Linked DNA regions of Homo sapiens: region 1 is linked to region 2. The links come from fine-mapping of genetic effects on gene expression. A gene starts in region 2. The other region holds a variant in brackets. All regions are shown on one strand. Distances are between the middles of the regions. Region 1 has its middle 6.4 kb from the start of EIF4A2. Region 2 holds the start of RFC4 (replication factor C subunit 4).

Region 1 (4,396 bases), 29 kb after region 2:
TCTATTTGAAATGCAGATACTTGTGGACTCTGCCCTCTCACCCAGATTCACTGGATCTGAACTGAGGTGGAGCCGGCTTCTGATTTTGAAAAATTAAGGCTGGGAGCAGTGGCTCATGCCTATTATCCCAGCACTCTGGGAGGCTGAGGTGGGCGGATCACTTGAGATCAGTAGTTTGAGACAAGCCAGGCCAACACGGTGAAACCCCATCTCTATCAAAAATACAAAAATTAGCTGGGCATGGTGGCGCACACCTGTGGTCCCAGCTACAGGGGAGGCTGAGGCAGGAAAGCAGGAGAATCACTTGAATCTGGGAGGCAGAGGGTGCACTGGCATGATCATGGCACTCCAGCCTGGGCGACATCTTTATTTTACCTCAAAGATTCACTATTTTGGCCAGGCATGGTGACCCACAGCTGTAACCCCAGCACTTTGGAAGGCCAAGGCCAGTGGATCACCTGAGGTCGGGAGTTTGACACCAGCCTGGCCAACGTGGTGAAACCCTTTCTCTACTAAAAATACAAAAAATTAGCCAGGCATGGTGGTGGGCGCCTGTAATCCCAGGTACTCGGAAGGTTGAGGCAGGAGAATTGCTTGAACTCAGGAGGTGGAGGTTGCAATGAGCCAAGATTGCGCCACCACACTCCAGCCTGGGTGACAGAGCAAGACTGTCTCAAAAAAAAAAAATCACTGTTTTTCATCAGTTTGCACATCTCTTCGAGATTACATGAAGTCTCCAGGATCAGGTTTGTCTTCAGGACAAACCTACACCTCTGTGAAGGATGGAAGAAAGACCATGATTGGCAATCTCACCCCAGAAATGTGGGCCTGGTATCTGGAATCCCACTCCTGTGCCCCATTACCTGGGGCTCTATACTACCCTCTTCATGTGACACAACCAACTCATCTTTCATGTTTGTTTGTTTTCTTTTTGAGACAGAGTTTCGCTCTCGTTGCCCAAGCTGGAGTGCAGTGGTGCAATCTCGGCTCACTGCAGTCTCTGCCTCCCGGGTTCAAGCGATTCTCCTGCCTCAGCCTCCCGAGTAGTGGGATTACAGGCATCCACCACCACGCCCGGCTAATTTTGTATTTTTAGTACAGACGGGGTTTCTCCATGTTGGTCAGACTGGTCTCGAACTCCCAACCTCAGGTGATCCGCCCGCCTCTGCCTCCCAAAGTGCTGGGATTACAGGTGTGAGCCACCATGCCTGGCCAGGAATTTATCTCTTTTAATTCTTATAACGTTGCCCGGCCTCATCTTTCATCTTTATCATATAAATGAGATAAAGTTTATATATACATATATATAAACTATATATTTATATATACGTATATATAAACTATATATACATATATAAACTATATATACGTATATATAAACTATATATACGTATATATAAACTATATATGTATAAACTATATATGTATATATAAACTATATATATACATATATTCCTATATAGTTCATTAAAAATAATAGTTATATCGTTTTTTGGAAATGACAGAAAACAATCACCAACCCCAAGAATGTCTGTTTGTTTTTAAACATAATGGAAATCATACTTTAGGTAAAAATTTTTTCCTCTATTTTTTCTTTTTTTTTTTCTTTTTTTGTTTGTTTGTTTTTGTTTTTTGAGACAGAATCTCTCTCTGTTGCCCAGGGTGGAGTGCAAATGGTGCGATTTGGCTCACTGCAACCTCCACCTTCCAGATTCAAGTGGTTCTCCTGTTTCAGTCTCCTGAGTAGCTGGGATTACAGGTGCATGCCACCACACCCAGCTAATTTTTGTATTTTAGAAGAGACAGGGTTTTGCCATGTTGGCCAGGCCGGTCTTGAATTCCTGACTTCAGGTGATCCACCCGTCTCGGCTCCGCAAAGTGCCGGGATTACAGGCTGAGCCACCGCACCCGGCCCTTCATTATTTTAATAGGAAAAAAAACTATTAAAATAATAAAACTATAAACGACTTCAATGGCTGTCAAAAGAAGATTGGTTAGTAAATTGTATGCCGTGTGTATTAGTCATTACAAACAGTGAGGTCTACTTCTACTTCTGGAGAGATGGAGTAGGCAAAATTTTTCCTGTTCCTCCTACTAAGTGCAACTGAAAACCCTGGACATTATATATAAAGCAAACACAAGAAGACTCTGGGAGGTGGGGAAAAGAAGGCAGACAGGTAGGAACCTCAAGATACACATGATAGTGAATTCCC[T/C]GGGTTTTCTTCCTCCTTCACACATCCTGAGTTGAAACTGAAGAAGCGGCCGGACGCGGTGGCTCACGCCTGTAATCCCAGCACTTCGGGAGGCCGAGGCGGGCGGATCACGAGGTCAGGAGATCAAGCCCATCCTGGCTAACATGGTGAAACCCCTGTCTCTACTAAAAATACAAAAAATTAGCCGGGCGTGGTGGCGGGCACCTGTAGTCCCAGTTACTTGGGAGTCTGAGGCAGGAGAATGGCGTGAACCCTGGAGGCGGAGCTTGCAGTGAGCTGAGATCGTGCCACTGCACTCCAGCCTGGGCGACAGAGCGAGACTCCACCTCAAAAAAAAAAAAAAAAAAAAACAAAACAAAACAAAACTGAAGAAGCTAGCAACCCAGAAAAGCCAACCGGCATAGACTAGAAAAGCTCCAGCAAAAGGCTGCTTTCTCTACCCAGGACAGAGGCATTCTAGGAAGATAGAAAAGTTGTAGACAGTAATTCCATTATTTCAGCCAAATACCACAGAAGCAGCTGTGGTCCTACCCACACCCATGCCAGCAAAAGCCAACTGGGGAGCCCACGATTCTACCCTTGGGAGGCTGTAATGAGGTTCTCTGACAACCTCCACCCCCAGACCCCCGCCACTACCACCACCACATTGTCAGAGGAGACCACGGAGCAGCTTCAACTTCCAGGCCCACTGGGCAGGAAGAAAGGTGATCCTTCAGATCCCACTAAGGTGGTGTTATACAAGGCCCGCTGGGAAATCAGGACTTGATCGCACAGTCGTCATGAGGCCACCTCATTGTAGTGTCGGTGGAGACCACATGAGGAACTCCAGCCCCCACCCAGCAGTAACAAGGATCATCCCCTCTGGTGTGTGTGAGAAATCTGGACTTCTACCTCCTGCTGGCAGTAGGAAGGCTGTGCTGTCCTTCCCCGGCCAGAGCGGCATCAGAGAAAGCCAGCCAGAGCCAGAGATTGAAGTAAGATCTAATGAGCATGTGAAAAATGCTCAGCATCCCTAATCACTAGAGGAATGCAAATCAAAACCGCAGTGAGATACCACTTCACACCCATTAAGATGACTATTATTATTTTAAATAGAGAACGGGGTGGGAAGGCTTGGGAGGCGAGTCTCAATTGTTGCTTAGGCTGGTCGTGAACTCCTAGGCTTAAGCAATCCTCCTGCCTCCGCCTCCCAAAGTGCTGGGATTACAGGTGTGAGCCAGCACGGCTGACCAAAATGACTATTAATTTTTTAAAAAAATAGAAAATAACAATTGTTGGTGTGGATGTGGAAAACCAAAATCCTTGTACATTGCTAGTAGAAATGTAAAATGGTGTAGCCACTGTGAACAGTATGGCAGTTACTCCAAAAATTAAAGAATTATCATATGATCCACCAATTCCACTTCTGAGTATATACCTAAAATAATTGATAGCAGGGATGCAAACAGATTATTTGTACACCAGTGTTCATAGCAGCATTATTCACAATAGCCAAAAGGTGACAGCAACCCAAGCATCCATTGACGGATCAGTAGATAAAACAAGTGTGGCTGGGCGTGGTGGTTCACGCCTGTAATTCCAGCACTCTGGGAGGCTGAGACATGAAGATCAGTTGAGTTCAGAAGTTTGAGACCAGCCTGGGCAATATAGGGAGACCCCATCTCTACAAAAAAATCAAGTAATTAGCCAGGTGTGGTGGCATGTGCTTGTGGTCCCAGCTACTCGGGGAAGGCTGAGGCAGGAGGCTTGCTTGAGCCTGGGAGATGAAGGCAGCAGTAAGCCATGATCACGCCACTGCACTCCAGCCCGGGGGCAACAGAACAAGACCCTGTCTCCAAAAAACAAACAACACAAAAAATCAAATTGTGCTTTATACATCAATGGAATATTATTCAGCCTTAAAAAGGAATGAAATTCCGATCCATGCTACAGTACGAATGCACCTTTGAAGACATTATGCTAAGTGAAATAAACCAGACACAGAAGGACACGTAGTATATGAGTCCACTTATATGAGCATAGAAACAGAAAGTAGGAGGGTTATCAGGGCCTGGGGGAGGGGAGAATGAGGAGTTACTGTTTAATGTGAACAGAGTTCCAATTTGGGGAAAAAGGTTTGCAGATGAATAGCCGTCATGGTTGTATCACATCATGAATATGCACAATGCTACTGAAGTATACGC
Region 2 (4,396 bases):
TGGAGAAAACTAGTTAGCCCTTTCCACCAAGTGAGGTTACAGCAGTAAGACAGCTGTCAATGAGGGAGTGAACCCTCACCAGCCACTGAATCTTATGGTGCCTTGATCTTGGACTTCCCAGCCACTAAAACTGTGAGAAATAAATTTATGATGTTTATAAGCCACCCAATCTATGGCTTATAAACATAGCAGCCAAAATGGACAAAGACCACTTATCCATCAGCTTGTCTGTTTTTTTGTTTGTTTGTTTTTGAGACGGAGTCTCGCTCTGTCACCAGGCTGGAATGCAATGGCGTGATCTCAGCTCACTGCAACCTCCACCTACCGTGTTCAAGCGATTCTCCTGCCTCAGCCTCCCAAGTAGGTGGGATTACAGGCACCTGCCATCATACCTGGCTAATTTTTGTATTTTTGTAGAGATGGAGTTTAACCATGTTGGCCAGGCTGGTCTTGAACTCCCGACCTCAGGTGATCCGCCCACCTCGGCCTCCCAAAGTGCTGTGATTACAGGCATGAGCCACCGTGCCCAGCCCAACTTGTCTGTTAAATGAGATCATAACATCCCCCTCTCTGTGGTTGTGCTGTTCCTTCAGGTAGCAAATGGATACCATCTATTTTCATAGATCTTGTTTTATCAACTGTATTGTGGTATAATTTACATACAATAAAATATACAAGCATTAAGTATACAGTTTGATAAGTTATGGTAATGTAAACCGGTGACCAGATAGATAACCTGTGTGTTTTTTATACTGTCCAGAGATTGTATCAGACTCTGTGGAAATTACAAAGTAGCATAAAGCATCCTTACTTTGGTTAAACCCTTGATTGGGTTAGGCCTGGGATGTAAGTTCTCACAGCCCCCTACTTCCTCTGCATAACCACACATCACATTGTCTGTCACTCTCCTAGTCTGTAAAGCTACTTGAGGGCATCTCGAGCGTTTTCCCTGCTGTATCTGCAGGCATCTAACACAGTGCGTGGACATTCTGTAAGCATTTGTTGCAAGATAAATGAAAAAAACGTACAAAGTTAACAATGGATATCATGCTGAGTTTGTGCCAAACAAAACAGTCATTTGAAGAAGACCCGGAACAACCTTATGGGTTAGTAATTAGTAAAGACCAGTAGAGAAGGTGGCCTTTGAGAAGGGTCAGGTTTCAATAGGATTAAGGAGCATTTCAGAGCTAAACCAAGTACTTGGAAGAGATAAAAGCAGTGGGCTCAGGCACCAGCCTAGCCCACTGTGCATGAAGCTTGGTGGGGCTAAACATGATTATCAGTCCTTTAACTTTTATTGAACGCCTTCACTTCCAGATTTCTAAGTGGGGCTCAGGAATTATAATAGATGTCCACAGCTGCATGGTCTTCTCTCTCCACAACACGCAGACACTATTAGAAGTAAAAGCCACGTGTCCTCAAGAGGGCAAGGCAAAGCATCTTCAGATGTCTCTGCCCTTAAAGCACACGCGTTCTGCTCTGCGACGAAGCAGGACAAGGAGGACAGGGACCTGCACCTCCGGAGGCCCGCACCTACGAAGATAGCGGGCTCGGGACCTTCGGTGGACCGGCAGGGTTCCAGAGGCCCGCGCGCCGCCGCCCCGCCCTCATTGCTGAGCCTGCCAGGTAAGCAGCCCCAGCGCCGTGCCCGCGCGACCTCTACTCCTTCCGGGAGGGTCGCGCTCACGTCTGAAGTGGGAGCAATGCACCGGGACAGGGACACCTCCTAGGCCATGCCTGTTCCAGTCCAGTTCTGCCTGAAAGTCCGGCTGGCTCATCACCTGCCTAAATAAAACCGTATACGGGCAAACTCCCTCCGCAAGCAGCGCGCCCCAGCACCGGAAGTGACGCGTTACGTGCCCGCGTATTCCTACCGGCGTATTCCCGCCCTGCTTTTCGCCCGCCGTTCCGTGGCGGGAACTGAGGCGACTGTGGGGACATCAGTGATCGTAAGTCTCCTGGGCCCGTTATTCTCAGATTAGGTGACGGAGCTAAGACTTCGAGACCATCTCGTCCTTTTTGTATCGCGGAAACCTGAGGAACGAGCCGGCGGCGGTGACCTGCACGAGAAGCCAGGCTAACTGGTAACCTGCTGGAGGAACTGCAAGCCCGCTTCGCCTTCCCCACTCCTGCCCTTGATGCCCCTTGTGAGGTCTTCCACCTCCTTCGGGGCCCCAGCCTAGTGGCCCTTTCATGCCCTGGCCGCGCCCTTTGGTGAAATGGTGGTTCCGGACAGCATCTTGCAGGCCCCGGCTTTGGGCTGTATTAATGTTTAACAGCCCGAGGCAGGGATGGACTAATCCAGTAACGTTATAAAAACCTTGGCTGCTAACAGATATTAAAAATTTATTTTATTGAGCATATCCCCATATGCCAAGCAAGGAACTATGTATTTGCATACATTCTTTTATTTAACTCAGTTGTCCTGTGGAATAGGCCTTAGCTCCTTTAACAGAAAAGGAAACCGGGTATCATAGATGGTAATTCATTCACCAAATATTACGGAGCATCTACCATGTACCAGGCACTGTTCTAGGCACCAGGGCATGTAGCAGTGAAAAAAATAGAATTAACCGGGGACTTTTCAGGCGAGCTAATGATGCTTTTTATCCCTGAAAACAGCCTGGAAGAATGTTTACCTGCATGTTAGAAATAGTTACCTTCTGGGTGGGATTTTGTATTACTTTTTTAAATCTCTCATGCTTTTATGCATTGTTTTGATTTCTTCAAGTGAGTGTGTTATGAGAAAAACAGCTGTTTCTATTTTAACAACAGAGTCCCCCACCTTCCCTTCCCCACAGAAAGTCTCTGAAGGTAGGTAAGCATTGACTCTGCCATGAAAATAGGTCCCTGGCCAGGCGAGATGGCTCACACCTGTAATCCCAGCACTTTGGGAGGCCGGGGCAGGAGGATTACTTGAGCCCAGGAGTTCCAGACCAGCCTAGGCAACATGGTGAAACCCTGTCTCTACCAAAAATTTAAAAAATTAGCCGGGGGTGGTGGCACGCACCTGTAGTCCTAGCTACTGGGGAGGCTGAAGTGGGAAGATGACAGGAGCCTGGGATGTCAAGGCTGCAGTGAACCATGATTCCGCCACTGCACTCCATCCTAGGCAAAAGAGTGAGACCCTGTCTCAAAAACAACAACAACAAAAAAAGGTCTTTGAGTTCTGACCCAAGGAAAGGAGTGAAGGTTCTCATTTGTGGTGCAAGCAGAGCACCTTTAATTGCCGAAGAGTCCATTTCAGGGTCTGAGCTAGAGCTAGGCCCATGACTGTGAAAGAAACCATGGAGGCCCATGTGGTTTGGTCATTAGCAACATCATATTTATCAATGCATTTGGAACTCATTAAACATTTTTGTGACATATGATCTTTGTTCTATAACTCCTGCACTAGAAATAGATTCTAAGTTCGTTAGGGACTTTGACCACTTTTCTGTTCTTGTAGCCCTCAGTACAGTGCATTCAGAGTGTCCTAGGTCATGGGGTGATGTCCTTTATTATGTAACATCTTTGCACAAGGCTAAGTTTATTTTCGGGCTGTACTTTCTCATAATGGTTCCCCACCACCACCCCCGCTTTCCTATGGTGCTGATTCGCAATAAAAGTTTCAATAAAAGCTTTTTTTTTCTGTCTTGCACCTGACCAGGGTGAAGTACCATGCAAGCATTTCTTAAAGGTACATCCATCAGTACTAAACCCCCGCTGACCAAGGATCGAGGAGTAGCTGCCAGTGCGGGAAGTAGCGGAGAGAACAAGAAAGCCAAACCCGTTCCCTGGGTGGAAAAATAGTAAGAACACTTGTGTCTTTGTTAAAATAATTCATAAATTATCTCTCTAACCAGTACTGATCACTTTTTTTTTTTTTTAACTTATGGAGGAATGCTTTGTTCTGTTTAGAAGTTGTCTTTGAAAAAAAATCACCCACTTATATAAGTCATAGAACCCTGGAACTAAAGTTACCTGAGAATAATCTAGTTTAACTCCCTTATTTTGTAGATAAACTGAGATCTCTACAAGCAGAGGCTTCCATTTTAGGGGCTGGGATACAGAAGTGAAGAAAACAAAAGTTTCTGTAAACTGGCTATAAATACTAGGTCAGGAGTTCTACTTAAATCCAAATATGTAATCTGTTCCTCCTTCTTCTCATTACAATAGGTGGAAAGTATTATTATTATTATTACTATTTTTGAGACGGAGTCTCACTCTGTTGCCCAGGCTGGCGTGCAGTGGCATGGTCTCGACTCACTGCAACCTCCACCTCCTGGGTTCAGGTGATTATCCTGCCTCAGCCTCCCAAATAGTAGGGATTACAGGTGCCCACCACCACACCTGGCTAATTTTTTGTATTTTTAGTAGAGACGGGGTTTCACCATGTTGGTCAGGTCGATCGCAA

The links. PIP is the estimated chance that this variant, and not a neighbour inherited with it, causes the effect.
Region 1: its variant is the best candidate, but not a certain one, in a credible set for the expression of RFC4 in spinal cord (GTEx, PIP 0.56).

Annotation. Positions count from the first base shown.
Region 1 is chr3:186,775,015-186,779,410 of GRCh38, reverse strand. No RefSeq gene overlaps it. Among named protein-coding and RNA genes, the nearest start is that of EIF4A2, 6.4 kb to the left of the region's middle. RefSeq lists a silencer at 1,817-2,018 and an enhancer at 2,758-3,592. The variant T/C (reference allele first, on the strand shown) is at 2,214.
Region 2 is chr3:186,803,978-186,808,373 of GRCh38, reverse strand. RFC4 (replication factor C subunit 4) reads left to right here and starts at 1,892. Exons shown (of 11, transcript NM_002916.5): 1 at 1,892-2,084; 2 at 3,650-3,791. The coding sequence starts at 3,661. RefSeq lists enhancers at 1,113-1,724, 1,725-2,336.